Linked DNA regions of Homo sapiens. The protein of the gene in region 1 binds, or shares a complex with, the protein of each later gene. Each region holds a gene or a part of one and is shown in the gene's direction. Other genes may lie near its edges. The genes, in order: ARPC1B, ARPC5, ARPC3 and ARPC2.

What was found.
Region 2: ARPC1B (region 1) and ARPC5 share a complex: the UniProt entries of both Homo sapiens proteins name them as parts of the arp2/3 complex.
Region 3: ARPC1B (region 1) and ARPC3 share a complex: the UniProt entries of both Homo sapiens proteins name them as parts of the arp2/3 complex.
Region 4: ARPC1B (region 1) and ARPC2 share a complex: the UniProt entries of both Homo sapiens proteins name them as parts of the arp2/3 complex.

What each region holds. Positions count from the first base shown.
Region 1 is NC_000007.14:99,377,716-99,384,742, forward strand, and holds part of ARPC1B (actin-related protein 2/3 complex subunit 1B), read left to right. Parts: intron 1-7,027. UniProt on the Homo sapiens protein: Component of the Arp2/3 complex, a multiprotein complex that mediates actin polymerization upon stimulation by nucleation-promoting factor (NPF).
Region 2 is NC_000001.11:183,625,759-183,632,785, reverse strand, and holds part of ARPC5 (actin-related protein 2/3 complex subunit 5), read left to right. Parts: intron 1-2,148; coding exon 2,149-2,325; intron 2,326-5,191; coding exon 5,192-5,254; 3' UTR 5,255-7,027. UniProt on the Homo sapiens protein: Component of the Arp2/3 complex, a multiprotein complex that mediates actin polymerization upon stimulation by nucleation-promoting factor (NPF).
Region 3 is NC_000012.12:110,440,311-110,447,337, reverse strand, and holds part of ARPC3 (actin-related protein 2/3 complex subunit 3), read left to right. Parts: intron 1-1,786; coding exon 1,787-1,886; intron 1,887-6,949; coding exon 6,950-7,026; intron 7,027-7,027. UniProt on the Homo sapiens protein: Component of the Arp2/3 complex, a multiprotein complex that mediates actin polymerization upon stimulation by nucleation-promoting factor (NPF).
Region 4 is NC_000002.12:218,220,179-218,227,205, forward strand, and holds part of ARPC2 (actin-related protein 2/3 complex subunit 2), read left to right. Parts: intron 1-5,741; coding exon 5,742-5,776; intron 5,777-7,027. UniProt on the Homo sapiens protein: Actin-binding component of the Arp2/3 complex, a multiprotein complex that mediates actin polymerization upon stimulation by nucleation-promoting factor (NPF).

The sequences.
Region 1 (7,027 bases):
CCTCTTCCTCTCGAGTTCAAGTGATTCTCTTGCCTCGACCCCCCGAGCAGCTGGGATTACAAGTGCCCACCACCAAGCCCAGATAAATTTTGTATTTTTAGTAGAGAGGGTTTTACCATGTTGGGCAGGCTGGTCTCAAACTCCTGACCTCAGGTGATCCACCTGCCTCCGCCTCCCAAAGTCTGGGATTACAGGTGTGAGCCACCGCACCCGTCGGTTGATAGGTCTTTTCTAATATTAATAATTACGTAGCATCTCAACATGTTAATGTCATAATTTACTCTTTCCATATTGTCACCTGGGTTTTTCCACACTGTCACCATTATAAAGACAGCTATTATAAACATGTTTGCTTTATTTTTTAGATGAGGTTTCACTCTGTCACCCAGGCTGGAGTACAGTGACGAGATCTCGGCTCACTGCAACCTCCACCTTCCCAGCTCAAGGAATCCTCCAGCCTCAGCCCCTCAGATAGCCAGGACTACAGGCGTACAGCATCACATCCCGCTAATTTTTTTTTTTTTTTTGGTAGTTTTTATAGACACAGGGTTTTGCCATGTTGCCCAGGCTGGTCTCCGAACTCCTGGACTCAAGTGATCCACCTGGCTTGGCCTCCCAAAATGGTGGGATTACAGGCGTGAGCCATGGCACCCCACCTGTTTGCTTTTAAAAAAGAAAAATGGGGCCAGGCGTGGTGGCTCACACCTGTAATCCCAGCACTTTGGGAGGCCGAGGCGGGTGGATCACAAGGTCAGGAGTTCGAGACCAGCCTGTCCAACATGGTGAAACCCCATCTCTACTAAAAACAAAAACAAAAATTAGCTGGGCGTGGTGGTGGGCACCTGTAGTTCCACCTACTGGGGAGGCTGAGACAGGAGAATTGCTTGAACCTGGGAGGCGGAGGTTGCAGTGAGCCGAGAATGCACCACTACACTCCAGCCTGGGCGACAGAATGAGACTACATCTCAAAAATAAAAAAGAAAAAGAAAGAAAAATGTGTTGCTGTTTTCTTAGGACCAAATGGGTGTATGTGACCAAAGAATGTTAATTTTCTTTTTCTTTTTTTTTTTTTTTTTTTTGAGATGGAGTCTTGCTCTGTCCTCCAGGCTGGAGTGCAGTGGCGCAATCTCGGCTCACTGCAAGCTCCGCCTTCCGGGTTCACGCCATTCTCTTGCCTCAGCCTCCCGAGTAGCTGGGACTACAGGCGCCCGCCACCACGCCCGGCTTAATTTTTTGTATTTTTAGTAGAGACGGGGTTTCACCGTTTTAGCCAGGATGGTCTCGATCTCCTGACCTCGTGATCCACCCACCTCGGCCTCCCAAAGTGCTGGGAGTATAGGCGTGAGCCACCACACCTGGCCAGAATGCTAATTTTCAAGTTCCTGTTAGTGTTATTCTGTTCTATTAATATTTGGTCCCACCCACTTGTTGAATTGAGTGCCCTTCAGAAGAATTAAACCAATTAGCAACAAATGACAATTTCTCCACAGCTCTGCTAGCATTGAATTTTGTGTGTTTTTGTTTTGTTTGGATGACTAACCGGTGCTTTAATGGTACCTTACGATTGTTTTCATGTGTGTTTCTTGACTTCACTCTGCGTGGTTGGTAAGACTTCAAGAGCAGAGCTGGAGAGGGAAGGATAGGGGTAGGAAGGGCTCTGACCCAGCATAGGAAGTTGAGTAACCGCTTAGCACGGTGCAAATTAGCCTGCTGGCTGCTCTATCCAAGAACTGCCTGAGCTGGGTGGGGACTTCCCAGAGCGCCTGTAATGCTGAGATCTTTCCTCCAGGCAACTCCTCCTTGGTTTAGCCTCTGATACAGCCAAACCTCTGGATTCAGGGAAACCTAAGGAAGCCAGGCAAGAAGGGTCCCGCAGCCTGTGCCTAGTCTAGCCCCAGCCTCATCTGGATTAAGATGGGAGGGAAATATTGGCTGAGGGCACCCAGCCAGTATGAAGACAGCTAGAATGTAAACCCAGCACAGTAAGGGAGAGAGTATCAAGGCCCAGGACTTTAGAGTGCCTCACCACCACCACCCCGCCGCTGGGCAGCCTGAGGCTTTCTTTGCCTGGCACCACCATGCCTGGCTAATTTTTTTTTTTTTTTTCCAAGTGGAGACGGGGTTTTGCCATGTTGGCCAGGATGGTCTCAAACTCCTGACCTCAAGTGATCCACCCACCTCGGCCTCCGAAAGTGCTGGGATTACAGGCGTGAGCCACTGTGCCCGGCTATCCCCTCCTCTCTCTGGTTTCTTAACATCAAACAGGCCCACAGTGCTGGCTCACAGGGCCACAGTGATAGTGGGTTGGTGTCCTGGATCCCTCCCCCAGGAGCCATCACTGAGACCTTATGCTGTCAACACTGGTGGGTGAAGCAGCCCTCGTATTTTTCTCCTGAGACATCCAGAGCAGGGTAATTGGCAGGCGGGGGTGAGCACACGCTGGCTCACGCAGGCTTGGTAGGTGAGAGGTTTTCCTGAGGATGATGAAGTTGGAGTGTCCCCGGCTAGAATCCCTGAGGCAGGAGACTGGAGCCCTGTGGCAGCATTGGCTGAGAGAAGCCACTCCCTTTTTGCTCTCCCACTTCCTCACTGGTAAGATGTGGGGGTTGGGGAGTTATCGCAGAGGCGCTTTGGGTTTCAGCTGCTTTGCAGAAGTTATGGAAAAAGGGAAATGAGTCTTCCTGTCTCTCGCCCCCTTAACACTTCTTTGCCCCATTTAAGGGGTTTGTTCAACAGACTAGGAAGTATTTCTGCTAATTCATGCTGAAGTGTGATTGGCTGATAGGTGTGGTCTCAACCTCCCTCCTCTGCCAGTCACTAGTGTACCACTGTGGCCATCTTTTCCAGCCCCTCCTCTGCCCCTTGAGTATGTCTAGGTCCTAGAAACAGTGGTCAGGGCTCTTCAAGTCCTCTCGGTTGCCCTTGCCCACTGGCACACGTGGGGGTTGCTGTCTTCAGCAGAGCCAGCCACTCCGTCTTGACAGCCAGGGCAGAGATGTGGCTGGGCACACAGCAAGAATGTGACCACTGATGCTGGGATGTCAGAGTCTGTGCATCAACCCAGGGTTCTGAGTCTGGGCTCTCCCACCCTCATCCCCGGAGGTTCCTTCAGTCTGGGCCTCCTGGGGCTGAAAGGGAGGGAAAAATTGGCCTCAGCTGGAGTCCTGGGGCCAACCAGAGCCTGGGTGGAGTGTGAAAGTGGGCTTCTGGCCTTCACCCTGCCCCTGCCCTGCTGGTGACCTTGGACCATGGGGGTTGTCGGGGTGTAGATGAGCACCGTGAATCAGTCACAGGCCTTGAGCTTCTCTCTGCACAGTGCTGGCATCAGATGTGGGTGGTGATGTCCCAGCCTGGGAACACAGGAAACGCTCAGGGAAACCCCCATCAGACCTGCTGACATGGCTGAGGGCGCTGAGATGGTGCTTCCGGGGCCCTCACCTTACACAAAGAGGCCTTATAAGGAGAGAGAGGCTGCAGAGGCAGCCCCAGTGGGTGCCGGGTGCTTGTTCTGGGTAAGGCTGCCCACACGTGCAAAGTGTGCTTGTGGACACAGTGCGCTTGCGTGTGTGCAAGGCTGAACATACATGTGTGCAGGCCTGCAGTGTGCCTGTGTGTGAGGCTCAACACGTGCATGTGGGGAGTATGGTCATGTGTGCAAGGCTAAACATGTGCTTAAAGTGTGGGGAGGTGCAGTGTGCATGTGTGTGTGCAAGGCTTAACATGCAAAGTGTGCTTGTGTGTGTGAGGCTGAACACGCATGTGTTTGTGTGCGTGGCCTGACCCTGCGCTGCGTGTGTCTACTTGCTCAGCAAATGCTGACTGGGGACCCACCGGGGTCCTGTTCTAAGCATGGAGGAAACATGAGGTCCCTGCCCCGTGCATGTACACATGTGCATGTGTGTGTGTCCTGTGCTGCTCCAGGAATCTTCCAGGACATCCTGATACAAGTGAAAGCAAGCGGTTTGGATCTGGAGTGAGCAGGAGGTGGACAGGGCCTTCCAGGCAGTGAGCGCAGGGGGCTTTGTGTTGTGACCTCGGGCAGGCTGGTCACTGAGCCCTGTGGGGCCAAACTGCAGCCCCAGGCAAAGGTCGTTCTGCCTTTCCCTTGTGCCTGGGCCCAGATGCAGTGCAGGATGGGCCGGCCCCTGGGCAGGGCAGTGACGGGGCAGCCACCGGCCTCCTGGGGCATTCAGGGTTCCCAGTCCTGGTTGGCTCCCAGCCCAGGCCCTGAGACCCAACACAAAACTGCCAGTCTGGTGAGGGAGGCAGCCACATTATCTAATGGCTGTCACTGGTGACTCTGGGCAGGTGGCCTCAGCCCCCACATCTGTCATCTGGAGCTGACCTGGAGCCTGGCATCCCTCCCCAAGTGCAGCCAGGCCTCCCTGAAAGTCCAGGGCTGGTGGGAGTGTTGAAGTCAAGAATGTATACAGAGCACCTGGCCAGGCGCGGTGGCTCATGCCTGTAATTCCAGCACTTTAGGAGGCCGAGGCGGGCGGATCACTTGAGGTCAGGAGTTCAAGACCAGCCTGGCCAACATGGTGAAACCCTGTCTCTACTAAAAATATAAAAATTAGGCATGGTGGTGCGCACCTGTAATCCCAGCTACTCAGGAGGCGGAGGTTGGAGTGAGCCAAGACTGCGACATTGCACTCCAGGCTGGGCAACAGAGTGAGACTTCATCTCGAAAAAAAAAAAAAAAAAGGATACTTTTTTTTCTAGAGCTGGCAAGGAGGGAGTATCCAGAAAGTGCTGGATGGTACTAGTTAATACATTTTATTTTAGAGACAGGGTCTGGCTCTGTCACACAGTGGTACAATCATAGCTCACTGCAGCCTCAAACTCCTAGGCTAAGCAATCCTCCTGCCTCAGCTTCCTGAATACCTAAGAATACAGATGTGCACCACCACACCTGCAAATTTTTTTATTTAAATTTTTTGTAGAGATAGGGTCTCACTGTATCGCCCATGCTTGTCTTGAACTTCTGGCCTGAAGCAATCCTCCTGCCTAGGCCTCCCAAAGTACTGGGGTTACAGGCATGAGCCACTGCGCCTGGCCCTATTTAATAAAATTATTTATTTATTTATTATTTTTAAGTTATTTTTTCACACACATTCATTCCTAACCTTTTTTTTTTTTTTTTTTTTGAGACAGAGTCTTGCTCTGTTGCCCAGGCTGGAGTGCAGTGGTGTGATTTTGGCTCACTGCGACCTCTGCCTCTCAGGTTCAACAGATTCTCCTGCTTCAGCCTCCCAAGTAGCTGGGACTACAGGTGTGCGCCACCACGCCCAGCTAATTTTTGTATTTTTAGTAGAGACAGTCTTTCACCATGTTGGCCAGGCTGGTCTTGAACTCCTGACCTCAGGTGATCCGCCCGCCTCGGCCTCCCAAAGTGCTGGGATTACAGGCATGAGCCACCGTGCCTGGCCTCATTCCTAACCTATGTAATGATAATATTTTTGAGGGCTGGGTAGGGTGGCGTGAGCCTGTAGTCCCAGCTACTTGGGAAGCAGAGGCAGGAGGATCACTTGAGCCTGGGAAGTCGAGGCTGCAGTGAGCTGTGATCACACCACTGCACTCCAGCCTGGGCAACAGAGCGAGACCCTTTCTCAAATATACACACACACACACGTTTCTGAGAACGTACTCTGTTGGTCACTAATGGCAATGAAAAATTTGTTCAGCGGATATTTCTTGAGCACCTACTATGTGCTAAGCATTTAAGCAGTGGAAATAGAAACGAGAACAAGATAGAACAAAAATGTGTCTCTGCCAAGCTGGTTCTATTCCAGCAGGGGAGGAAGGCAGCGGGCCAGATCAGTGAGTGCATGTCTGATGGTGACTGCTGAGAAAATTTAATCGGAAATAGGGAATTACGAAGTGCCGGACCGTGGAAGGTGCTGCAGTTTCCAGGGAAGGCCTCCCCAAAAGTTGACATTTGAGTACAGACTTGAGTGGCAGCACCAGAGCGAGAGCCGTGTGTGCCGGTATCTGGGGGAAGAGTGTCACAGGCCTAGGGAACAGCCAGCACGGAAGCCCGAGGCAGGTGCATGCCTGTGTGCCCCAGGATTGGCCTCTGGTTGGCTGGGGAGGCCTGCTCCTCAAAGGGCTGGTATATCACATCCATCACAGGCTAAGAGTAACCGCCTCGTGGTTCCTCCTCATAGAGGCCAGGTGCGGTGTGTCATCTGCTTCCAGCTCTCAGCATCTCTGCTGGGAGGCAGGATTCCTGTTCCCATTTTACAGATGAGAAAACTGAGGTTAAAAGAAGGCAGGTGATGTGTCCCGGGGCATGTGGCTGGGCAAGCAGTGCCACTGGGCTCCTCCACTTCCAGGTCCCTGTGATGCTGGGAAACTGAGTCACGGAGGCGGGGAGAGATGTGTTTGAGGAATTGGGCTGAGACCGTGATCTCACCCCCGTCAGGCCTGGTGGGCTCCTTTGACACTCAGCGGCAGGTGGAGGAGGCTAGGGACAGGCTGGCAGGGGCTGAGCTGGGCTGACGGGAGGATGAGTCGCTGCCCTCTGCCAGGGTTCCCCTTCAGTGCTGGGGCTAGTCTAGAGGGCTGCAGTCAAACATCTCCCTCGTTCTGGCCGAGTGTAGTGGCTCACACCTGTAATCCCAAATACTTGGCAGGTGAGGAGGGAAGATCTCTTGAGCCTAGGAGCTTGAGACCAGCCTGGACAGCATTGTGAGACCCCCCTCTCTACAAACAAATCAAAAATTAGTTGGGCACAGTGGCACATGCTTGTAATCCCAGGAGTTCATGGCTGCAGTGAGCCATGATCACACCACTGCACTCCATCCTGGGCCACAGAGAGAGACCCTGTCTCAAGAAACAAAAATCTCCCTCCTTCAGTTCCCCAAGGCTGGGTCACCCTGGGGCCTCCCCAAGAGCCATCACCCAGGCCTCGCCTAGCCCTGTGCCTCCTCCCAGCCCTGGGTGCAGCCAGTGGATGTCTGGATGGAGAATGGGATGTATCTGTTAAATATCTGCCTTTGCCTCAGCCATGAGCCCCTGCAGACCG
Region 2 (7,027 bases), on another chromosome or scaffold:
CTTTACAAAAATAAACAGATTGTAATTGCTTTTTAAAGATTTTTTAAAACCATACAAATACTAAATACTTATTATAGAAAGCTCAGACATATGAGAAGGTTAAAAAGATAGTGGTTTGTGGTCCCAGCACCCAGAGATAACAGTTACTACTTTGGGGCCTTGCTGTATTGTTACAGAGTTCCCTTTTGTTTTTTTAAGAATGAAATTTTATAACGTGCTTTTTCAGCTATATGCAATGTACATGAGCTTTCCTTCGCAATAAGTTTATAGCATTTTTAACACTTGTATATGGATAAGCTGCAGTGTATACATAACTAATCTTTTGTTATATATTTAGACTGACTTTTTTTTTCCTATTGTAAACCACTGAAATCAATATTTTTTGGTAAATTTTTAATTGTTCTCTTTGAGTAAATTGCTAGCAGTGAATTACTGGATCAAAGAATGCACTTTTTTTTAAGGCTTTTGGTATGCAGTATTGCCAAATTGCCCTTCAGAACAGTTGTGCAACTTACATTCTCTGCAGTCTTTTACTAATTCTTAACCTATTTACGTATTTATTTAAAATGATGCCCATAGCATCAACCCCGTTGTCCATAGCTATTCATACATCCTAGGAGCTTCAAGAATCTCAATTGAATAGTAGTAAGTAATAACTTAGGTAAATGCATAATAATTATCTAGGTAACATAATTTTTTATTGGGGAAAATTTCTTTGGTTTTTACAAGTTGTAAAGATTGTCGTTGAAATTTCATTTTTACCGTGGATGCAAAGATATTTTTCTAAATCTGGTAATTGCAGTCTTTAAACCAAAGATAACAGTAGGTGGTAGAAACATTCTGTGAAATCCTGACCAGTAGGAATGCTGGAGGTATCACTTTGTGTTGAATGGAAGGAGAAACGAATTGTTGAAAAGGTCAGTTAAGTGTTTCCTTTGCTTGGCCGGATGGGTAAGAAAATAACTGCTTTTGAAGCAGGCTTTTGCCAAAGAAAAAAGATCATTATTAATGAACATCACTATATTTCATATCTACAGTCAATTCATATAAATTACAGTCAATTTTCTTTTAAGACAGCTTGGTTTATTAAAATTTTTAAATAAAAAAGTTTTTAAGAAAAAATTACTTCTGAAGGATAATTCAAGGTGAAACTGCAAATCTGCCTCCTTGTTTTGTTGGGAATTTTTTTTTTTTTTTTTTTTTTTTGAGACGGAGTCTCACTCTATCACCCAGGTTGGAGTGCAGTGGTGCAATCTCAACTCACTGCACCCTCCGCCTCCCGGGTTTAAGCAATCCTCCTGCTTCAGCCTCCCGAGTAGCTGGGATCACAGGCACACACCACCATGCCTGGATAATTTCTGTATTTTTAGTAGAGACAGGGTTTTACCATTTTGGCCAGGCTGGTCTCGAACTCCTGACCTCAGGTGATCTGCCCATCTCGGCCTCCCAAAGTGCTGGGATTACAGCTGTGGGCCACCACACCCGGCCGTTTTGTTGGGATTTTTTTTTTTTAAGATCAAGACATAAATTTAAATGTTGTTTTAATAAATTGTTAAATTATCACATTGATCTGTTAGCAAATCCTCTCAGCTCTGCCTTCAATTATGTTAATAGTCTGTCTAGTTTCTTACCACCTCCACTGCTACTATGCTTACCACATCCAGCCTGTATTATTGCAATTGCCTCCTAATTGCTCTCCCTGCTTCTACCTTATCCCCTACTCCCACAGCTTATTTTCTGTAACATAGATGCCAAAGCAATCCTGTTAAAATGTGAGTCAGATTATGGCACTGCTCTTAAAACCTTCCAATGTCTTCTCATTTCTCTCAGTAAAAGCCAAACTCCTTACAATGCCTGTAGGCCTTACACGATCTGTCCTCCCATAACCTCTGACTTACTCACGTGCTTTTCTCCCACCAATCCACTCCAACCACATTGGGTTTTTTTCTGTTCCTGGAACACACTGAACACACACTAATAGCACTGTTCTTTCCTCTGTCTGAAACACTTTCCTCAGTTATCCCAAGCCTTCTTTCACGTCCTTCAGGTCCTTACTCAAATGTCACATTCATAGTGTAGACTTTCTGAAATTCTAAACCCTCCTCATACAGATATGTCTAAATGTTCTGTTATTTATTGACCCACCAGGACCGGGCAGGCAGCATTGTCTTGAAGGTGCTCATCTCTTTTAAAGCTAATGATATAGAAAAGGCAGTTCAATCTCTGGACAAGAATGGTGTGGATCTCCTAATGAAGTATATTTATAAAGGATTTGAGAGCCCGTCTGACAATAGCAGTGCTATGTTACTGCAATGGCATGAAAAGGTAAGTTATGAATTATAAATCTATATGACTGGTTCTTTTACAATAGGGAATGACAATGACAACCTCTCTCACCTAAATAACCATTTTGATTTGTTGTACATTTTTGTTATTACAAATAAAATGCATGAAAAGGATAGTTCATATTTATGTTTACTAGCCTTGGTCTTAAGAGATTCTGATTCCAACACTTGTGTTTATTCAACAATGATTATTAGTAATTAAACATAATCTTGAACTCTGAATTAAATCAAAACTTTGTAAAAGAAAATAAGCAATACAAATCAAGAATTCTTTCACAGTGACCAAAAGGTGAAAACAACACAAGGATCATAACAGATGAACAGCTAAATTGTGGTACATACATACAATGGAATATGATTCAACCATTAAAAGGAATGACATTCTGACACATGCTATAACATTAATAAACCTTGAAAACATACCAAGTGAAATGAGCCAAACACAAAAGAACTAATATTTTATAATTTTACTTATATGAAATAATCTAGGATAGGCAAACACAAAGGGACAGAAAGTCCTTAGAGGTTACTAGGAAGTAGGGAAAGCAAGGAATAGGGAGTTAGTGCTTAATAGGTACAGAGTTCCTCCTTGGAGTGGTAAAAAAGTTTTGGAAACAGATAGTGGTGATGGCTACAGTACATTGTGAATATAATTAATGCCAATGGATTTTACACTTAAAGATGGTTAAAATGGCAAATTTTGTGTTAGATATTTTACAACTTTTTTAAAGAATTAGGAGTTTGGAGGATCAAGAATTCTTAAATCATGTTTTTCTATTTTCATGTGTATATTTTGCAATGTAAGTAGATGCTGGTACATCATCTGTCAAAAGAGTATAAGTGATTTTGAGCTTTGGGTAAAAAACTGGATAACATGTAAATAGAACCAGTCATAAAAATATTGAGTGTTTGAAGTGTATCTGAGTGAAAACACAAACATAAGAAAAAAGCACATAGTAAAACAATAGTTCCCCCTTTTACTCTAAAATGCACCAATTTGGGTAGTAATTTATATGGCACCCTATTCATGGAACACTTTCTGTTGCCAGGTACCATACTATTAATGTTTTATTTAACCTTTACAACAACCCTGTGAAGTATATAAATATCTTTATCATCCTCAATTTACAGATGAAAAGCTAGCTTTAAAACCCAAGCAGCGTAGTTCTAGCATAGCCTCAAGATTGCAGTGAACATTGATTACTTATTATATTCCACATATTCTTCAAAGGACTTTATAAATATTAACTCATTTAATCCTCATAAAAATGGAGGGAAATGCTTGCTATTATTCCTCTTTTGTCACTGAGGAAACTGAGGCATGTGTGAAGTCTTCATTTCTTCCAAATGTCAGTCACCAGTTTTTACCAATCTTCGAAGTATTTCTGAAATCTATCTGTTCAAGCGTATCTAATGCAGCTGTTCACAGCATCTCTCCCAGTCTGTTGCCATAGCTTCCTGACTGGTTTCCCAGTTAACAGTTTTGCCTCCTTCAAATCTGTTCTCCACCCAGCCATCAAAATGATATCTTTAAAATCAAAATTGCCCTTGTCAGTCACCTGCAGGATAAAGTCAAAGTTCCCAAGTCTAGCTTCATCTTCCATGTCATTCTTCCCCTCAGGCTATAGCAATGCCAGCCTTTTTCCTGAATGCACCATATTGTTTCACACCTCCATACATTTGCTCATGATTTTCTGGTGTTAGCCTGTCACCTACTCATTCTTTTAATGTGTCATTTCCTCCATGAAGCCTTAGCTGAAACATTCCTCTATACTGTTAATCTGGGTATAAGCCTCTCCCTGGTGCTTTAATAGCACCTGCAGCACAACTCTCATTTCATACATTAGATTAAAATTACCTGTTTATATGTCTGTCTCCTCATGCTAGACCAGAAAATGCTGTATTTGTTCACTTTTGTATCCCCAGCATCTAGCACAGTACTCAGTATACAAAGGTATTCCATAAATATTTTTTGAACAGAAAGAAACCAGAGCTCAGATTCCTAATACTTGATCATTACTCTCTATTTTTCAAATTAGAGTCAGAGTTAAAGTTTCTAAGTTCTTAGCTATTAAACAATACCTTCTTTCTTTGGGAGAAAAAAAATCTGACAAAGGCTGACTAATCGAAGTGGAAGTTGGGATGGTTGATCCCAGTTTGAATTTTCTTCTGACTATGTGGTGAGAATGAGAAATGCAGAATGTCCACCTGTTTTGAGCAGGAACACTATGCTGCAGATTTTTTTTTTTTTTTTTTTTTTTTTTTTTTGAGACGGAGTCTTGCTCTGTCGCCCAGGCTGGAGTGCAGTGGCGCAATCTCGGCTCACTGCAAGCTCCGCCTCCTGGGTTCACACCATTGTCCTGCCTCAGCCTCCCGAGTAGCTGGGACTACAGGCACCCGCCACCACGCCCGGCTAATTTTTTGTATTTTTAGTAGAGACGGGGTTTCACCATGTTAGCCAGGATGGTCTTGATCTCCTGACCTCGTGATCCGCCGGCCTCGGCCTCCCAAAGTGCTGGGATTACAGGCGTGAGCCACCGCGCCCGGCCTATGCTGCAGATTTTTTAAAACATTATTTAGAATTAATGTACTAAAATGTAAACTAGTATCTCACTAGAATGTAACTTCATGAGGGCAGGGACTTTCAAGGTTTTGTTTATTACTGTAACCTCAGTGCCAAGAACAGTACCTGGTGCATAATTGGTGCTCAAGAATTTATTATTTGTTAACTAATAAATTCAGGGTCTATAGCAGTGCCCATTCCTTCTTTAAGAAAAATGTTTTACCAAATATGAGAATTGACCTTTTATTATTCTGTCAACATTTACATCTTGGTTTGTTTTTAGGCACTTGCTGCTGGAGGAGTAGGGTCCATTGTTCGTGTCTTGACTGCAAGAAAAACTGTGTAGTCTGGCAGGAAGTGGATTATCTGCCTCGGGAGTGGGAATTGCTGGTACAAAGACCAAAACAACCAAATGCCACCGCTGCCCTGTGGGTAGCATCTGTTTCTCTCAGCTTTGCCTTCTTGCTTTTTCATATCTGTAAAGAAAAAAATTACATATCAGTTGTCCTTTAATGAAAATTGGGATAATATAGAAGAAATTGTGTTAAAATAGAAGTGTTTCATCCTTTCAAAACCATTTCAGTGATGTTTATACCAATCTGTATATAGTATAATTTACATTCAAGTTTAATTGTGCAACTTTTAACCCCTGTTGGCTGGTTTTTTGTTCTGTTTTGTTTTGTATTATTTTTAACTAATACTGAGAGATTTGGTCAGAATTTGAGGCCAGTTTCCTAGCTCATTGCTAGTCAGGAAATGATATTTATAAAAAATATGAGAGACTGGCAGCTATTAACATTGCAAAACTGGACCATATTTCCCTTATTTAATAAGCAAAATATGTTTTTGGAATAAGTGGTGGGTGAATACCACTGCTAAGTTATAGCTTTGTTTTTGCTTGCCTCCTGATTATCTGTACTGTGGGTTTAAGTATGCTACTTTCTCTCAGCATCCAATAATCATGGCCCCTCAATTTATTTGTGGTCACCCAGGGTTCAGAGCAAGAAGTCTTGCTTTATACAAATGTATCCATAAAATATCAGAGCTTGTTGGGCATGAACATCAAACTTTTGTTCCACTAATATGGCTCTGTTTGGAAAAAACTGCAAATCAGAAAGAATGATTTGCAGAAAGAAAGAAAAACTATGGTGTAATTTAAACTCTGGGCAGCCTCTGAATGAAATGCTACTTTCTTTAGAAATATAATAGCTGCCTTAGACATTATGAGGTATACAACTAGTATTTAAGATACCATTTAATATGCCCCGTAAATGTCTTCAGTGTTCTTCAGGGTAGTTGGGATCTCAAAAGATTTGGTTCAGATCCAAACAAATACACATTCTGTGTTTTAGCTCAGTGTTTTCTAAAAAAAGAAACTGCCACACAGCAAAAAATTGTTTACTTTGTTGGACAAACCAAATCAGTTCTCAAAAAATGACCGGTGCTTATAAAAAGTTATAAATATCGAGTAGCTCTAAAACAAACCACCTGACCAAGAGGGAAGTGAGCTTGTGCTTAGTATTTACATTGGATGCCAGTTTTGTAATCACTGACTTATGTGCAAACTGGTGCAGAAATTCTATAAACTCTTTGCTGTTTTTGATACCTGCTTTTTGTTTCATTTTGTTTTGTTTTGTAAAAATGATAAAACTTCAGAAAATAAAATGTCAGTGTTGAATAATTTATTTTTCTCTGACTTTAACAATTATGAATGTATGGTTAATTAAGAGGAAAGGTTTTCTGCTTCTACCACCAAGTACTGTACTCTTAACAAGAACAGTTTGGTAGGGTTTTTATAAGACTATATAGATATAAGATGATAGAGAAGAGAGTCATGAATGATGTCAGAGCACTACTGAAGCCTTTGGAGTGATTCCATAGCCTTCTGGATGGCAGCTGAATACCTATATGTAGTATCACTGCCCAAAGACCTAGACTAGAAAGTGCAAAGTAGCTTAGCAGCTGCAGTCATTCACTCCCAGCCTCCAAAATTCTCTTTCTTTCACCTCAAATCTATTTCTTGTACTTACCTACTCACAGCGACTTCTGTTTGCTTTCGATCTTCACCTGACTAGATTCCCACTTTAAAACACTTCCAGGCAATTCAGGGTCCTATGGG
Region 3 (7,027 bases), on another chromosome or scaffold:
ATAAAAAGCCAGACATCTTGTAAAAAGCAGAACTAAGAATCAGCATACAAAATGCTCTCATAAATGTGATTTTTTTTATCCCTTCCTTTAACACACACCTACCCACTGAAGGGAATATATATCTTCTCATTTTACAAATTTGGAAACAAGCTAAGAGAAGAAGAATGATGTCTTGGTCAAAAGCATAACGCCATGAAGTGGCAGAGCTGAAAAGATAGTGCTTGGGTCTTGGTTTAGCTGGGGGCTGGGTACCCTGATTTATATGATGTTTGTCTTTCTGTAGTGGAAATACTTTGGCCAGATACCAATGTGATGTCACCGAACATAGAATTGGAAGAGATGCACAGCAGCACCCCATTATTTAGTATTTCGTAATAATAACCTTAAGAACATAGACAATAGTAAAATGTAATTTTTAAAAATTAGGTTATTGCCGGGTGCAGTGGCTCACGCCTGTAATCCCAGCACTTTGGGAGGCCGGGGCGGGTGGATCATGGGGTCAGGAGTTCGAGACCAGCCTGACCAACATGGTGAAACCCTGTCTCTACTAAAAATACAAAAATTAGCTGGGCGTGGTGGCACGCACCTGTAATCCCAGCTACTTGGGAGGCTGGGGCAGGAGAATCGCTTGAACCCAGGAGGCGGAGGTTGCAGTGAGCAGAGATCGCGCCACCGCACTCCATCCTGGGCGACAGGGCAAGACTCCGTCTCAAAAAAAAAAAAAAATTAGGAAGTAGGCCAAGTGCAGTGCAGTGGCTCACATCTGTAATCCCAGCACTTTGGGAGGGCAAGGCGGGCAGATCACCTGAGGTCGGGAGTTCGAGACCAGCCTGGCGAAAATGGAGAAACATCGTCTCTACCAAAAATACAAAATTAGCTGGGCGTGGTGGCTTATCCCTATAATCCCAGCTACTCAGGAGGCTGAGGCAGGAGAATCACTTGAACCCGGGAGGCGGAGGTTGCAGTGGGCCAAGGTCATGTCATTGCACTCCAGCCTGGGCAACAAGAGCCAAACTCTGTCTCAAAAAAAAAAAAAAAAATTAGGAAGTAGCCAGGTGTGGTGGCTCACACCTGTAGTCCCAGCCCTTTGGGAGGCTGAGGCAGGAGGAACACTTGAGCTTAGGAGTTTGAGATCATCTTAGGCAACATGGTGAGACTCCTTCTCAAAAAAAAAAAAAGAAGTGATGAATACTTAAGCATCATTGTTTTTAACATTATTTACTTTTTTTTTTTTTTTGAGACAGTCTTGCTCTGTTGCCCAGGCTGGAGTGCAGTGGCACGATCTCGGCTCACTGCAGCCTTCGCCTCCTGGGTTCAAGTGATTCTCCAGCTTAGCCTCCCACATGGCTGGGACTACAGGCGCACGCCGCCACGCCTGGCTAATTTTTTATATTTTAGTAGAGATGGGGTTTCACTGTGTTGCCCAGGCTGGTTGCAAACTCCTGAGCTCAGGCAATCTGCCTGCCTCAGCCTCCCAAAGTGCTGGGATTACAGGCATGAGCCACCACGTCCAGCCAACATCATTTACTTAATTGTAAGTTTATATAATTTGATTTTTGAGAAGAGCTGTGTTTAACAACCAGCTTGAAAAATGCCTCAAAATTTAACAATTGGTTTTCTTGAGCCAGAAAGAACCAGCCCTCGCACCTCAATGCTGCTATCCCTTCTCCCTCCCCTAATTAATCTTGGGTGGTTTACTCTTTTTTTCCTTTAAGGGAAGGTTGTTTGCCACAGTGACATTTGCTCTTTTTCTGCTTCTGTGTTCTTCCTGGGCTTGCCATTACAGGCTTACCACTCTTCTCTCATGGATCCTGATACCAAACTCATCGGAAACATGGCACTGTTGCCTATCAGAAGTCAATTCAAAGGACCTGCCCCCAGAGAGAGTAAGTCTAAACCCATTATTTTCAAATTTTGGTACGAAATGCCTAACAATCTTCTGAAATGATCAAATCAGAAAAATTCTTAGCTCAGTCTTCTCTCTCAAATTGCCCTTGTACTTTGCTTGGTAGATACTGTGGTCTAGACCTTTCAAGATAGTGGTTATATGTTGCATTTAATAGGAAATTGTATTATTTCTTCTGACTTCTCCAGGAAACTCTTTTGAGAAAATGGAGGAAATGTGCTTAATTCTGGACACTGTTTATCAGTTCTTTCAAACAAATCTAATGCTGTTACGTCTAGAATGCCACATGCCCATCCTTTCTGTCATCAACCTGGAAAAGAACAACAACAAATATTTTAACCTCTTCCTCGTCTAAATCTACTTCCTTTATTCATTCTTCAAGATCTTCATTTTTAGCAATACCTCAATCTTAAATCTGAAGTGTACTATGTAACATTACTTACGTCTATTCCCGCTTTTCTGAATTTTATTTCAGAAAGCCGCAATATTTTTCAGACACTGTCTGAGACTCTTCTGATGCTTTCTGAGATGTTCTCCCAACAGTATAATTTGTATTATGTTAGACATGGTTTCCCTGTACCCTGCAAGGGTCTGAACTGAATTCCATTCATGGTTTCCAAGACCATTATTATAATTACCAATTTGGTACTTATCCAGTCCCCATTTCTCTGCCAGACTGTTTGACTTGACCTTTTTTAAACTTAATTTTGTTTTCAACACCATTTGAAAGCTCAGTAAACTTAATGCATATGGTGAGTCACCACAGTCTCTACTTGATTCTGAGGAAAAGGAACAAGGAAGAAGACAGCCTGGGAAAGAAGAAAAATAACATAAAAGAAAATCACAAGGCTGGGTGCGGTGGCTCACACTTGTAATCCCAGCACTTTGGAAGGCCAAGGCAAGTGGATCACTTAAGGTCAGGAGTTCGAGACCAGCCTGGCAAACATGGCGAAACCCCAACTCTACTAAAAATACAAAAATTAGCTAGGCATGGTGGTGGGCACCTGTGATCCCAGCTACTCAGGAGGCTGAGACAGGAGAATCGCTTGAACACAGAGGGTGGAGGTTGCAGTGAGCCAAGATTGCACCACTGCACTCCAGCCTGGGTGACAGAGTGAGACTTCATCTCAAAAAAAAAAAAAAATTTTTTTTCACTGCAAAGGCCAGGCGTGATGGCTCACACCTATAATCCCAGCACTTTGAGAGGTCGAGGTGGGTGGATCACCTGAGTTCAGGAGTTCAAGACCAGCGTAACCAACATGGAGAAACCCCATCTCAACTAAAAATACAAACAATCAGCCGGGCATGGTGGCGCATGCCTGTAATCCCAACTACTTGGGAGACTGAGGCAGGAGAATTGCTTGAACCTGGGAGGTGGAGGTTGCAGTGTGCCGAGATCATGTCATTGCACTCCAGCCTAGGCAACGAGCAAAACTCTGTTTCAAAAGAAAAAAAAAAAAAACCTGAATTGGAATGGAGGCCTGTGCTGTGAGCTAAATAACAGCATTAATCACACTAATTCATTTATATTCAACAAATATCTGTAGAATGCCTTTTATGTGCCAAGTATTCTTCTAATTTCAGAATCCTTTGGCCTTTGCCCCCTCCTGTCATTGCATTTAGAAGAACTAGCTGGTTTTTGGAAACAATATTGAGTCCTCCAAGACAGTTTTCTTTCACAGATAAGAAAACAGATTGCAGCCAGGCATAGTGGCTCACGCCTGTAATCCCAGCACTTTGGGAGGCTGAGGCGGGCAGATTGCCTCAGGTCAGGAGTTTGAGACCAGCCTGGCCAACATGGTGAAACTCTGTCTCTACCAAAAATACCAAAATTAGCTAGCTGTGGTGGCAGGCACCTGTAGTCCCAGCTACATGGGAGGCTGAGACAGGAGAATCACTTGAACTCAGGAGGCGGAGGTTGCACTGGGCCTAGATTGTGCCATGGCACTCCAGCCTGGGCGACAAAGTGAGACTTGATCTCGAAAAAATAAATAAATAAAAAATAGGGCGTGGCGCGGTGGCTCACGCCTGTAATCCCAGTACTTTAGCACTTTGGGAGGCCAAGACGGGTGGATCACGAGGTCAGGAGATCGAGACCATCCTGGCTAACACGGTGAAACCCCATCTCTACTAAAAATACAAAAAATTAGCCAAGCGTGGTGGCGGGCTCCTGTAGTCCCAGGTACTCGGGAGGCTGAGGCAGGAGAATGGCGTGAACCCAGGAGGCAGAGCTTGCAGTGAGCCAAGATTGCACCACTGCACTCCAGCCTGGGCAACAGAGCGAGACTCCATCTCAAAAAAAAAAAAAGTAAATTGCAAGGAACACAAGTCTAGAGTTAGAGTTCTGTTGAAATTCTTCCACAGGGCAATGAGCTGGGATGAAGACAACTGAATTGCAGAGTATGAAAGCTTCAAGATTACTTTGCATTTCTGCTGTGCGAGAACGTTAACAGTCATAGACAAGAAGTATAAGTAACTGTCTCAGCACTGCTGAAACCAACTGCCAGATATCAAGACCCTGGGATTTTGACCTTTTTAAAATAAGAAGAAGAAAAACAAAAAATTGCCAAACAAATTGTGTCATGAGATCTGTCTTTGTCAAGACAGTATTTCTGGCTTTTGTCCGTCTAGAGCTACCTACAACAGCTTGTACAAGTATATTTTAAGTCATAGTTTTCATAAAAAGAAAGATGTGTATCTGAACCTCAACATGTTCTAAATAATTGAGTTTTTTTCTGAAACTATAATATGTAAATTCAAATAAAATTATATTGAATACTTTTTATTTTATTTAATTATATATATTTTTTATTATTACTTTTTTGAGATGGAGTCTCGCTCTGTCACCCAGGCTTGAGTTTGGTGGAATGATCTCAGCTCACTGCAACCTCTGCCTCCTGGGTTCAAGCAATTCTCCTGCCTCAGCCCCCTGAGTAGCTGGGATTACAGGCACGTACCACCATGCCCGGCTAGTTTTTGTATTTTTAGTAGAGACAGGGTTTCTCCATGTTGGCCAGGCTGGTCTCGAACTCCTGACCTCAGGCAATCCATCCGCCTCAGCCTCCCAAAGTGCTGGGACTACAGGCGTGAGCCACTGCGCCCGACTGAATACTTTTTATTTTTAGGAAGCAGTTAAAGTTAGTCTATGTCTCAGTGTTTTTTTATAAATGCATTGAGAGACGTCTTGAATAATGTTCACCAAATGCTAATGGTAGTTATTTTTGGGGAAATGGGAATTAAGGTGACAATTAAAAATTTTTTTTTTGCCTGGTGCTGTGGCTTATGCCTGTAATCCTAGCTACTCAGGAGGCAGGAGGATCACTTGAGGCCAGGAGTTTGAGACCAGCCTAGGCAACATAGTGAGACTGCATCTCTAAAAAAAACTTTTTTTTTTTTTTTGGAGACAGAGTTTTGATCTCGTTGCCCAGGCTGGAGTGCAATGGTGCAATCTTGGCTCACTGCATCCTCCACCCGCGAGTTCAAGCGATTCTCCTGCCTTAGCCTCCCGAATAGCTGGGATTACAGGTGCCTGCCACCATGCTTGGCTAATTTTTTGTATTTTTAGTAGAGGCGCAGTTTCACCATGTTGGCCAGGCTGCTCTCAAACTCCTGACCTCAGGTGATCCACCCGTCTCGGCCTCCCAAAGTGTTGGGATTACAGGCGTGAGTCACTGTGCCCAGCCATCTTTAAAAACTTTTCTTTAAAAATTTTATTTAATTTTTAAAGAAAAAAATTAGCCAGGCCTCATGGTGCATGCCTGTAGTCCCGGCTACCTGGGAAGCTGAAGCAGGAGGATCACTTGCGCTCAGGAATTCAAGTCTGTGGTGAGTTATAATTGTACCACTGCACTCCAGCCCGGGTAACAGAGCAAGACCTCTCTCTAAAAAATAAAACTGTTTTGATTGAATTTCATTTTCTAATGAGCATGTATAAGTTTTACGAAAACAATAAAGCTGTAAAAATAAACCATGTACTACTTTTCTATAAATATTTTCTGAAAATCCGGGGGTGGTGGCTCACTCCTGTAATCCCAGCACTTTGGGAGGCTGAGGCAGGCAGATCACGAGGTCAGGAGTTCGAGACCAGCCTGACCAACAAGGTGAAACCCCATTTCTACTAAAAATACAAAAATTAGCCAGGCCTGGTGGTACATGCGTATAATCCCAGCTACTTGGGAGGCTGAGGCAGGAGAATCGCTTGAACCCGGGAGGCAGAGTGAGCCGAGATCATGCCATTTCACTCCAGTCTGGGCGACGGAGCAAGACTCCGTCTCAAAAAAAAAAAATTTGGCCGGGCACGGTGGCTTATGCCTGTGATCCCAGCACGTTGGGAGGCCGAGATGGGCGGATCACGAGGTCAGGAGATCAAGACCATCCTGGCTAACACGGTGAAACCCCGTCTTTACTAAAAATACAAAAAATATAGCTGAGCATGGTGGCAGGTGCCTATAGCCCCAGCTACTTGGGAGGCTGAGGCAGGAGAATGCCGTGAACCCGGGAGGCGGAGCTTGCAGTGAGCCAAGATCGCGCCACTGCACTCCAGCCTGGGCGACAGAGTGAAACTCTGTCTCAAAAAAAAAAACAAAGGCTGGGCACGGTGGCTCATGCCTGTAATCCCAGCACTTTGGGAGGCCGAGATGGGCGGATCACGCGGTCAGGAGATCAAGACCATCCTGGCTAACATGGTGAAACCCCATCTCTACTAAAAATACAAAAAATTAGCGGGGTGTGGTGGCAGGTGCCTGTAGCCCCAGCTACTCAGGAGGCTGAGGCAGGAGAATGGCGTGAACCCGGGAGGCAGAGCTTGCAGTGAGCCAAGATCACGCCACTGCACTCCAGCCTGGGTGACAGAGCGAGACTCTGTCTCAAAAAAAAAACAAATAAATATTTTCTAAAAACTTTGTATTTCAATAGGATCATTTTATTTTATTCAACTCCACAACTGTTGACAGTTGTATGTGTTTTCCCTTTATGGCTTTGATAGTTGTTATGTTTTGTATTTGGCTAATGTTCTCTGTGCTCCTTCCCTTGTGTCCTGCTTAGCAAAAGATACAGATATTGTGGATGAAGCCATCTATTACTTCAAGGCCAATGTCTTCTTCAAAAACTATGAAATTAAGG
Region 4 (7,027 bases), on another chromosome or scaffold:
ACCCTGGAGATTTGAAAGGCTTTGCTGGTGTGGGAACCTGCTAGGAGAGGTCAGCTCCACCCTACTTTTTGCACTTCTCAGAATAAACCGATGGGGGAAATTACAGTTCGGAGCAGCCTTTTCCAGAGTGCATCTTCCATCTCTGTGATGTCCAATAAGATAGCCATACAAAGTGGCTGGCTAAATTTAAGTAAAAATTAAGTTGAAATAAAATTGAGTTCCTCGGTCACACTAGCCACATTTCTGGTGCTCATTTGCCACATGTGGCTGGTAGCTGTTGTATTTAGCACAGACATGGAACATTTCCATTATTGCAAAGTTCTATTAGCACTGTTCCAGCTTCTGAAAATGAAAGCATGAGATGGTCTTAAAAATAGTTCTGTGGCATATACTTCAGAATATAGTTGCATTAATTTTCCATTTGAAGTTGATTTTTTTTTTTTTTAATGATTCCTCTCAGATCATCCTGCTGGATCTTCTCACCAGTGGCCTCCTACTAAAAGTATCAGCTTTCTTTTGGGTAAAGCAGTGTTGTCATCTAAACTGTTTAAGAATACATTTGATCATAACCTTTTAATTTGGAGGCAGTTTGACAAAGCCTAAGGTTCATTCCAAACAGATTGCTTTTTAATTTTTTCCTACACACTTCTGGGAAGTGGCTTATTGAAACAACTCATAGATTGTCACAAAATAATAATTATTGGTAAATTGTCTTCCCAGCAGCCCACAAACTAAGAGAATGTGACTGACTTAAAAGCTATGCCCAACACTGCAAATAACCTCATGCACAGGTCTGATCAACAGCATTGCCTTTTCATTTGGAAATTCTTACCCAGACCCTCAAAGCAAAAGTAATCAGACAAATTAATTTAATTCTTTCGTTAGTGTACACACCAAGAACCGTTTCATAACTGAGAAGCTAGGCCTGTCAACTTAGCTGGAGTCTGGAGTCCAAAATTGAGGAAATTCTGTCAGATGCAAATTGCTGTTGGATTTAAGTGTGTGCTGGCTCCGTGCCACAGCCAGTGTATATTGCGGGGAGCTGTGGTTCCATGGGGGGGAGTGAAACTCAGTAAGCAAGCAGTGCCAGTTGGGGTGGGCGAGGATGATGGGAAGAGAAATTTGAAAAAGGAATAAATTAAATCTTGCTGATACTCTGTTCTCATTCCCAAATATATTGCATATGTCCTCAGAGAGACAGGCTGTTTGGAGTGATTTGGAATTAGGACATTGTTTAAGCATTTAGAAGAAATGGAATGTTGTGTCCAACTCAGTAAGAAGACCTGGTTGGTCTTTTTACAGGTCACTGTAGTTAATTACACACTGCCACCTGTCCTGTGGCCTACTTGGGACCACTTTGGTCCTGAAGCCCCAGAGCTGTGCTGGACCAAACTGATAACTCCTTAAGAGCTGGGTCTATCACTTTAATCATCTTTGTTTCCCCAGCATCCTCATTGTGTATATAGTCAACTCAGTAAATTGGTTTATTGAAGAAATTAATGAAGCCAGATAGAATGATTCCTTGTTTCTTTAGGAGCTGACATTTTTGTGACATTGAGTAAATCAGCTTTTAGGTCTCTGTTCTCCATATTTTGATATATGGCTTAGTGGAGAATAGGACCACCTCTTACCTAATATGATCTATTTTTTTAGGCTTTGCTCAAAAAGAATGATGGGAGCTTTATAGAAGATTTAAAGGAGAATGCTCAGAAACCTTTATAGTGAGCAGAATTCAGTAATTCCTCTAATTCAGGACATAAGAAGGGATAAGTAGGAGAGAGACATAAATGCCCAAATGGGGAATTGGGGCCAGGCACCCTGGCTCACGCCTGTAATCCCAGCACTTTGGGAGGCCAAGGAGGGCGGATCACTTGAGGTCAGGAGTTTGAGACCAGCCTGGCCAACATGACAAAACATATGTCTACTAAAAATACAAAAATTAGCCAGGTGTGGTGGCGCACACCTGTAATCCCAGCTACTCAGGAAGCTGAGGCTGGAGAATCACTTGAACCCAGGAGGCGGAGGTTGCAGTGAGCAGAGGTGGCACCACTGCACTCCAGCCTGGGTGACAGAGCGAGACCCCATCTCAAGAAAAAAGAAAAAAATGGGGAATTGGATCCTAGGGTGCATTCAGGAGTAAAAACCCCAAAGTTGTTAATGAGAAAAGAAGATGAGATAATACAGTTGCCAGAAGCCCTTTCTGGATTGATTATTGACATTCTAGAAGCTTCCTTAGAGAAAAGATAGAAGAAAATTTTTTCTAAAGGGTTTTAAGAATAGCTCTTAAAACCTGTCTGAATGAATTGATTATGTTTTAGTGTCTTGGGTTGTCCAGGCAGTAACTCTGAGGACTTACCCAGCCGGCTTGTTCTAGGATTCCAGACATTACAGCAGTCTGACACTTATAGGAGTTCTGTTTTTCCTTGTACTGCTAACCAATTCCTGATTCAGGGAATTACCGCAATCCTAAAACCTCTCCCAACCACAGCTTCAGAGTCCGATCTCTGACTCCACCTAGGAGAAGAACTAATTTATTGATTACCTTCTATGAGCTAGGCACTGTGCTATATGCCTTAACATGGTTTCATTTCATTTCTGTGACAGATAGTGGATCTCATTTACAACTGAGAAAACCAGGGCTCTTGAGGATTGGGGGTGGGGGTAGATATTGAATAAGTAACTACTACATATTAAGTAAGCACCGTGCAGGCATCCTTCACTGTGATTCTTGACCTTGTTTATCGTATGGCACACAGAACATGATTGTATTTGTATGGCACATTTGGGTAAATGGTCTAGCCTCTCAGAGATCCTGCCACCTGCTGCCTGCCCTAAGGGATATGGGGATCATTACCTCAGCATATCTATAACTTAAAAGACACCGTTTGAGAAACTTTGCTGTACAGTAGTCCCCCCTTATCTGTGGTTTTGCTTTCTGCAGTTTCAGTTACCTGCAGTGAGCAGTGAACCATGGTCTGAAAATATTAAATGGAAAATCCCAGAAATAAACAATCCATTAATTTTAAATTGTGCACCATTCTGAGTAGCATAATGAAATCTTGCGCTGTCCCGCCCAGGACATGAATCATCTTTTTGTCTAGCATATCTACAGTGTGTACGCTACCCTCTGTTAGTCGCTTAATAGCTGTCTAGGTTATCAGATTGACTGTCACAGCATTGTAGTGCTTGTGTTCAAGTTACCCTTATTTTACTTAATAATGGCTCCAAAGTACAGGAGTAATGATGCTGGCAATTTGGATATGCCAAAGAGAACCCATGAAGTGATTCCTTTAAGTAAAAAAAGTGACCTTGGTGTTTCTTTGCTACAGTTCAGTGCTATCCACACTTTTATTTATCCACTGGGTGTCTTGGAACATATCCCCCACAGATAAGGGGAGACTGCTGTACTGCTGGACATATATCATCTCAGTCTTCACACCAACCTGGGAGGTAGATGTTTTGTCCCCATTTTGTAGAAGAGGAACCTGAGGCCCGGTGACATTTGAGGAGCATTGCCTGTGGTCACATAGCCAATAAATTCTGAATTCTAAATAACTTGCTTTTTCTCACCCCCAGCATCTGAAATTTTAGCAGCTGGTAGAACAGTAAATAATGTAACTATTAATTCTGGGGGCCTATTTAGTGGAACACTTTTCCTGGGCCAGTCTTCCTCCCGCTCCTTTGTAATTTTAAACCACAGAAGTAAAATAACAAACGCCAGGTCTTGGAATTGAGAAGCAATCTTGTGATGGTATACTTCACGCTCAGCAAACTCATCGTTAAGGCACTGAGTTCTCGGACCTCTAACTCCCAGAAGACTTCCCATGAAGTCTCCTTTGGCCTAATACTCTCCTCAGCAGCCATTCTCTCTCTTCTAGCCATAAATAGTAAACTAAAATATTAATGAATGTGATTTGACAAATATTGCTAAGTCAGACAGCAGACCACTTAAGATCGATCGTAGCAACTTTTCCCACAAGGATCTGTGCTCAGGATACTTTATGCCTAGAGAAATTTGAAATTAGAGACTCAAAGTGTGTATGACTTGGAGCCCAAAGGTTATTTATTTATAGTTGGTTTTTCTCAGGTCTTTTGACAAAGTAGGAGAGTGAGGAACTCAGCCCTTCTTTGGCTGAATTAAAACCTAAAGGTTAAAAAAAAACTTACTAAGTGATGTAATAATGGGCTTTTATAAACTCCCTGACTCTTCAGCACAGTCAGCCTTCCCCAGGAAAGTATGCTTCCATGCTTCCTCCCATTGGTCATCCTCTTAATATTTCATTCAGTTGGTCCATGATTAACATTTCCATATTTTTGTTCTTTGCTCTTGTTTTCTAGAGGTGAGGAATGGTATTGGACTCGTTGCCTTTGTTTCCTGGCTACAGTTTCAAAATGAAGGCTCAGAAGCAATTTAAATTTTCATCTAGTTTTTTCCTTCTATTCTGAACTCTCTGCTTCTCCGTAAACCCACTTGATACTTCAATTCGTAGAGATACCCAGTGCGCTTTTCCTAAGTCACATATAGGGCTTTGAAGAAGCAAGGTGAAGCTTTGTATGATTCGTATAGGTTGATTTTTCAGCAGGGCTAGCATGCTTCATAGAAGCCAGTTTTTTTGAAAGGTATTGTCTGGCTTCTATATCAGCTTTTTAACACTCATAAACCATGTTATATATTCCATTATTTCCCAGCATCCCTGGAGAGCAACTTAGTCTTCGTTTCTTTCGCAGGTAATGGAGCAGAGATCGTGGAAAGATACGTACTTGATTAAGAGGTCTTGAGCAAGTTAGACAAAAATAAATGTGAAAACATGCGCATCTTGTTTGCTAGCCCCTAAAACAAAGTGGAATCATTGAGTTTACAGGTAGCTAGCTGGTAAGGCAATAGTCTTCATTTGCTTCCTACTTTGGACTTCAGGTCTGTTCTTGTGTTATATGTAGTAGTTCCATGAGGTAAATAGGTTCATTTTTATTCCCCCATTTTATTGATGATAGGGGAGAATGCAAAGGTGTAAGGGTATTTGTCCCAAAACATGAGCGTGATGAGAAAGCTAAAGTTGTAAAGCAGATGTCCTGACTATTCTTAGTGATTTCATAGTGTTATTTTGTGTTACACTGTCTATTTTAAGTTCCGAGCTGGAATTTACAAAGCAAGACAAAACTAGGGTAGAACTAAAGAGGGTTTCTTGAAGGTGAGTGGTAAGTACTTTGGTGATGTAAAGGAAGAAAGAAAGATGAGTAGGAAGGCTTACAGACGGGTTTTGAAGTGGAATAGAACTTGCCGTTTTGTTTATGGCCCGAAATCATCCTTTCTCTTTAAGCATATTAAAACCATTCTACATTATACTTAGCCATTTTCCTGCTGAACGTTTTACTCCTAATACCACTGTCCTGTGGGGAAGGCATTGACCAAAAGATGGCATTTTGTGGTATATAGCATGTTGTTAGGAAATTCAGAATTGAAAGTGAGCACCAACCAAAGCAGTAGATTCAACAGCAGGTGAAAAACAAAAGCTATAGCTGGCCTTCCTTTTTTATCTGACCTTCCTTTTTTATCCTCTACTTAAAGCAAGTCCAAAGGTTCAGGTCCATGAGAAAATGAATTGTGTACTCTGATTGGCAGTAACCTAAAATTTATACAGAATGGTCTGATCTTAAGTGAAGCTCAGGTGCCTTTCCAGTTCCCTTTGAAGGTAAGCAGCAATACAGTCATCTTAACTGAGGACCTTTTTTGTTGTTTACAGAAACAAACCGGAAGCAGTAGAAGTAACATTTGCAGGTAAGCATCTTTATCTCAGCCCTCTGAAGAGAAGGTACAATATGAAAAATAGGAAATAGGCTGGGTGCAGTGGCACATGCCTGTAATCCCAGCACTTTGGGAGTCCGAGGCAGGTGGATCACCTGATGTCAAGAGTTAAAGAACAGCCTGGCAAACATGGTGAAACCCCCTCTACTAAAAATACAAAAATTAGCCGGGCATGGTGGTGGGCACCTGTAATCCCAGCTACTCGGAAGGCTGAGGCAGGAGAATCACTTGAACTGGGAGGCAGGAGTTGCTGTGAGCTGAGATCACACCACTGCACTCCAGCCTGGGCGATACAGTGAGACTGTCTCAAAAAAAAAAAGAGAGAGACAAGAAAAGAAAATTGTACCTAAAATAAGCTTTGACATGGATTGGGTGCGGTAGCTCATGCATGTAATCCCAGCACTTTGGGAGGCCACGGCAGGCGGATCACGACGTCAGGAGATCGAGACTATCCTGGCTAACATGATGAAACCCTGTCTGTACTAAAAATACAAAAAATTAGCTGGGCATGGTGGCGGGCACCTGTAGTCCCAGCTACTCCGGAGGCCGAGGCAGGAGAATGGCATGAACCCAGGAGGCGGAGCTTGCAGTGAGCAGACATCGCGCCACTGCACTCCAGCCTGGGCGACAGTGAGACTCCATCTCAAAAAAAAAAAAAAAAAAAAAAAGCTTTGACATTTTGGATACTGTCCCTCATCAGGTCTTTTTGAGCTCTTTATAATAGATGACCATTTCATGTATTTAATCCACTGATGACTGACAATATAAAGTTACCTGCTGATAAATTAGAAGTTTGGATTTAATTTTGTGGTAAAACTGAGGTTTTTTTGTTGTGTTTTTTTTTTAATTTGGAAATATTACATTATCTTCAAGTAGCTGTCAGTCTTAGTTTGCCTAGCACTAGAGTAGTAGGGAAACATGAACAGCTAGAGATGTGTTCATCAAGTCAGAGAGAGATGTTGCTGCTTTCTGTTCCCTATAAAGAATTAGGTGTTGGTACTATTTACTTGTTAGGTGAATGAACTCAGAGGAATACAACCACCCTTTCTACAACAAGAGTCCTCGACAAGATGATCTTGGAAGACTTTTGCAGCTCTGAAGTGCTGTTACCTGGAGGCCAGGCACCATCCCTTTACCCTCCTACTAACTGGCATTGCCAGATATCCCTTCGTGATTCCCATGACAGCTCCATAAAGTGATGGCACTCAGCACCTAATTCTAGTT